Linked DNA regions of Homo sapiens: region 1 is linked to region 2. Evidence: fine-mapped expression QTL. A gene starts in region 2. The other region holds a variant in brackets. All regions are shown on one strand. Distances are between the middles of the regions.

The links.
Region 1: its variant is fine-mapped to the expression of NIM1K in skeletal muscle (GTEx, PIP above 0.99). The same link has a PIP of 0.9 or more in aorta, fibroblasts, stomach, subcutaneous fat, thyroid and unexposed skin.

What each region holds. Positions count from the first base shown.
Region 1 is chr5:43,161,498-43,164,517 of GRCh38, forward strand. ZNF131 (zinc finger protein 131) reads left to right here. Exons shown (of 7, transcript NM_001330707.2): 5 at 1-434. Among named protein-coding and RNA genes, the nearest start is that of NIM1K, 29 kb to the right of the region's middle. The variant C/T (reference allele first, on the strand shown) is at 1,235.
Region 2 is chr5:43,191,254-43,193,753 of GRCh38, forward strand. It overlaps NIM1K (NIM1 serine/threonine protein kinase), which reads left to right and starts at 972. Exons shown (of 4, transcript NM_153361.4): 1 at 972-1,158. RefSeq lists a silencer at 813-952 and an enhancer at 1,288-1,997.

The sequences.
Region 1 (3,020 bases), 29 kb before region 2:
TGATTCTGCTCTAGCACTGTTGGCAGATATTACCAGCAAGTACCGTCAAGGTGACAGAAAAGGGCAGATTAAAGAAGATGGCTGTCCATCTGACCCCACGAGCAAACAGGTAGAAGGTATTGAAATTGTGGAACTTCAGCTGTCACATGTGAAGGACTTGTTCCATTGTGAGAAATGTAACCGTTCATTTAAATTGTTTTACCATTTTAAGGAGCACATGAAATCACACTCCACTGAGAGTTTCAAGTGTGAAATATGCAATAAACGATATCTTCGAGAGAGCGCATGGAAACAGCACCTAAATTGTTACCACCTTGAAGAAGGTGGAGTCAGTAAGAAGCAAAGAACTGGGAAAAAAATTCATGTATGTCAGTACTGTGAGAAACAGTTTGACCATTTTGGACATTTTAAAGAACATCTTCGAAAACATACAGGTAATGAGCAAATACTTTGTTAAAATTTTTTTTTCCCACATGCACTTCAAATTTAAGTATCTAAATCCTTTTTAAAAAAATAGTGCCTCAGAAGCCATCTCATGTATTATCTCTAATGTGTAGGCTAAGTACACGTTTTTATAGTATTACCTGTTCAAATATTGGTGCTTTAAATGCAAATCAGTATCAACTTTGGAAGTAATTGTTACTTTTATGCCTTGCCCAATTTTTATATTTTTCAAAGAAATAGAGAAAATAGTTTGTGACTTATTTCCTAAAGATCGTAAATAATTAAATCTTATAGTGAGACTTTACCATTTCTATTTTTACATTTCTTGTGTCGTGTTACTTACAGTACATTTACAAGCAATCCCTGACAGCCAGGCGCGGTGGCTCATGCCTGTAATCCCAGCACTTTGGGAGGCCGAGGCAGGCGGATCACCTGAGGTCAGGTGTTCGAGACCAGCCTGGCCAACATGGTGAAACCTCATCTCTACTAAAAATACAAAAATTAGCCAGGCGTGGTGGTGGGCACTCATAGTCCCAGCTACTCTGGAGGCTGAGGCAGGGGAATTGCTTGAACCCGGGAGGCAGAGGTTGCAGTGAGCCGAGATCATGCCACTGCACTCCAGCCTGGTCAATAGAGTGAGACTCCATCTTAAAAAAAAAAAAAAGAAAAGAAAAAAAAGCGGCCAGGCGCGGTGGCTCACGCCTGTAATCCCAACACTTTGGGAGGCCGAGGCGGGTGGATATCTGAGGTCAGGAGTTCAGAGACCAGCCTGACCAACATTGTGAAACCC[C/T]GTCTCTACTAAAAATACAAAAAATTAGTTGGGCATGGTGGCAGGCACCTGTAATCCCAGCTACTTGGGAGGCTGAGGCCGGAGAATTGCTTGAACCCGGGAGGCAGAGGTTGCCATGAGCCAAGATCACGCCATTGTACTCCAGCCTGGGCAACAAGGGCAAAACTCTGTCTCAAGGGAAAAAAAAAAAAAAAAAAGCAATCCCTGACATGTTTATACTTCTTTTCTTTTATTTGCCTTTTTTTTTTTTTTTTTTGGCAGATGGAGTCTCGCTCTGTTGCCCAGGCTGGAGTGCAGTGGCACGATCTTGGCTCACTGTAACCTCCGCCTCCCGGGTTCAAGCGATTCTTCTGCCTCAGCCTCCTGAGTAAGCTGGGACTACAGGCGAGCACCACCACGCCCCTGGCTAATTTTTGTATTTTTAGTAGAGACGGGGTTTCACCATATTGGTCAGGCCAGGGTGGTCTCAAACTCCTGACCTCGTGATCCGCTAGCCTCGGCCTCCCAAAGTGCTGGGATTACAGGCATGAGCCACCACATCCGGCCCATGTTTATACTTTTTAATGTACATTGAGTTACCTGCTTTGGCACAGTAGGTTAGTAGGCAGTATATGTTCATCTCTCTCCACCTTTTCAACAGCAAATATGTCAGGCCTGGCGGACATCCAGGGAGCTGAGGAGAATAAGGTCTTTATACTTCTCCTGGGAGCCATGCAGGCATGATGGAAATGTCCTGAGAAATCTACCTCAGGGCCTCGCCCCACATAGTTCTTCATCCCCTATTCCAGTCGTCTCCCTGTCAAGAGTCCCTGACCTTGCTCAGGTTTCTTGCTTGCTCCCACTCCCCGAACAACCTTTGCTGGGTCTCCTACACCAGACACAGTAGCTACCACCAACGAATTGAATCTTGGATAGTTCCTAAACCTACTATTACAAGGGTATGGAGAGAGCAGTTAATACAGCATGCTAAGTATTAGACTTCTGGACATTTGTTCCCAAGTCTTTGTTATATGTGGTGGTTAAGGCTGTTTAGACTGTTAATACAGTAAATACAACATAGATAGCCTACAGTATTCAGAATCTTTCTCTTTGATGCTGGAGTTTGGAGAGCTTCTGGTAAAAGTTTTTTAAAATAGGTTTGTCACTGTCAGTTGGTATACATCACTTGAAATTAAGGAACCACATAGATTCAGATGATGTTATCCCCCTCACTGTCCAAACTTACTGTCAGTATTCGAGGACTGAGTAAATACAGGAATAGCAAAGGGATCTTGTACTTAAGGCTCAGTATGGATTTAAAAGTCTTTAAGGTACTTAGTTTGGATAACTAATAGGCGTTTATGAAATCTTTTGGGAAAATGCTTTCTGATTGCAAACATGTATATATACAGTCTACTTTTGAACAACGTGGGTTTGAACTGCTTGCATCCACTTACATGCAGATTTCATTCAACTAAATATGGATCAAAATTATAGTATTCCCAGGATGCAAAACCCATGTATGTAGAAGACCAACTTTTAGTATGTGTGGTTCCACAGGGCCGGCTGCAGGACTTGAGTGTGCGTGGATTTTGCTATACGAACCAATCCCCCGCATATACCAAGGGACGCCTACCTGTTTTATATAATATTTGGAAACTGCCTACAGTTACAATTTTTGGTCCTTAGAAAACGAATAATAGTCTGTTGGTGAACATTTTTGTGGTAATTGGGTTAATTATGCAAAATGATTGTTGTTATACCAGCAGCACAATAAACAAACATTGGTAAGTAACTTGCAAACTTT
Region 2 (2,500 bases):
GGTTCCCTAGTTTCTACCATAAAAGAATTGTAGACATGGGTTATGTTGCTACTTAACAGTTTTGCTCTTGTAAATATTGCTCTGGCAATCAATACAGGATGGAGAGCAGGAGGAAGTAGAAAGAATGCTCGCAGAACTATGACTTAGGGTGTCTAGTCCTGGCTCTGCCATTAATCAGTTGTGTGACCCTTGCTAAGTTAACTGACCCCTCTGAACTCAGTTTTTTTTTTCTCTCTCTGTAAAAGGAAGGGCTTAAACTTCAGTAAATAACCGGTATGTTTTATTTAGTATTTTGCGAATCCCATTTCCAACTCTACGTTCAATCCAGTGACGGTATTTCTAGTTTATAAACTAGAAAAATAATCTTTGGCATCTGAGGGTCACAGCCGAGAGTATCTCCCTAGCAGGAGATTAGGGAGCCAGTGACAAAGTGGCACCAGGGGAACCGATGTATGCCAGGAATCCAGACAGAGGGTGACATTAGCACTTCTTTCTGCAGAACCTAAACCCTGCCCGACTCACCCGGAGGAGCTGTCACGGTGGTTTGCTGGAAACCCCCTTTCTGTTGGGAGGATTACTGGGTCACGGTTTCCCAAGGACATGGAAACCCTTGCTGAAGCGCTGGAACCGCTCGGCACGAGGCGTACGTCGGTGGGAGCTGTGTCAGCCCGCTTTCGGCCGTGTAGCTGCTCCCATCCAGACTCTAGAAGGGGTCCTCTTTGCGTCAGGCCCAATCACCCCCCTCCCCGAGCGACTGCACTGGGTGTCCCTGCGCCGCGCGTCCCCTCCCTCTCGCCCCTCCCTCCTGGCTGCCATAGAAACCAGCTTACAAGGTCCAGGCCGGCGTCCGGGTGCACTACAGGCCCCCCGTCCCTCCTTCCCCACGCCAGCCCCTCGCTCCGGATTGGTCCTTCAGGAAACGCTGTGGGGCGTCTCGGTCCCCGCTGCGGAGCCGGCCTAGGCCGGAGGGCGGGGTTTGCCCTGGGCCGCTGCCGGTCAGGTCGGCCGCCCCTGACAGCTCCGGGAGCCTCAAGCGCGACAGCGGCGCCCTCACCTCGGGACATCCACACACCGACCGCTCCTGCTCCAGAGGCAACAACCCAGCGCGCCTAGCCTGGCGCCGTGCAGCGAAGCCCAAGAGCTGGCCTCGCCACGAAGGTAAGCGAGGGGCTGGGGGACTCGCCGCCAGCACCCCCACCCCGCCACCCTTCCTCTGCTAGGCTGCAGACCTGGGTGGCTGAGGAGGAGGCGCCTCTCCTCCCCGCGACCCAAGGAAGAAAGGAAGCCCTGCCACGGGGTGTCTGCGAAGTGGGGTCAGAAGAAGGTTAGGCGCTTTCTGGGGCGTACCCCCACACCTGCCCAGGCCGATCCGCAAGCGAGAGGAGGGGGCATTAGAGCCAGGGCGAGAGCGTGCTCGCGCGTGTGTGCCCGTGTCATGTGTGGTGCCCGTGTCATGTGCGGCGCCCATGTCTATGTGCGCGCGTGTGTGCACCCATGTCTCTGTATGGTGTGGACACTCGTGTCTGCGTGCGCGTCCACACGTGAGCCGAGGAGCGCAGCTTAGCGCCTAGCGTTGCGCACAGCGGGTGCGCTGGACCAGAGCCCTAAGGCACCAGACCAAATCTGGAGCGTTTGTTACAAGGGCAGAAGACCGGCGTGATCTCCCCACGCGCGCCGGCCGGTGCTGCTGGTGGAGAGAACTGACATCTAACGCATGTGGCCCAGGAGAACAAAACCTTCCATTGCACCCCACGCCGCGACTCTCCCCAGCGAAAGGTGCTTCTTTTGGAAGACCGCACGAAGTAAGGAAGAGCCTCTTTTCCTCTTCCTGGATATCCCTCCAGGAATATTAGAAGCTCCAGGACTCCTTGATACGACCAGGAAAAGATCGCAACCGGGTCTTTAAAATATCGATTCCAGCCAGCTTCTGCGTGCTTGACACATCTTGGCAGATGGAGAAGTCAAGGCAATAGATAACATGGGCAGCAAAGATTCTGCTATAGCACTTCTTTCCTTTCTGTTTTTTCCTTCCCTCCTTCCCTCCTTTTCCCTCTTCTCCCTCCCTCCTTTCCTCCTCCTCCTCTCCCCTTCTCTTCTCCTCCTCCCTCCCTCCCTTTCTCCCTTTCTCCTCTCTTTTCCCCTTCCCTCCCCTGTTTTCGTCCTCCTGAGTACAGTAGACAAGAGGGCTCTCTGTCTACCCCCCCTCCCCCACCCCATTCCTCATCCCGTTTCAAAATAAGAGCGAATGAATCACATTCTAAGCTCTTACCCGTGCAGTTCTGACAAGTTTGGAAATTACACAAATCGCGTTTGCAATTGAGGCCGCGGGAATCCAAAAGGGAAACAAACGAAACCAGATGAAAAAAAGTGATTCCAAGTCAAGATTTCAAATGGAAATCTAAGGTGAATATTTGTTTATGGTAATAAGATTTTTTTTAATGTTTGAAAAGTATGTATCACACTAGCTTGCATCATCAGTATTCAATGTGATTCACAGAAC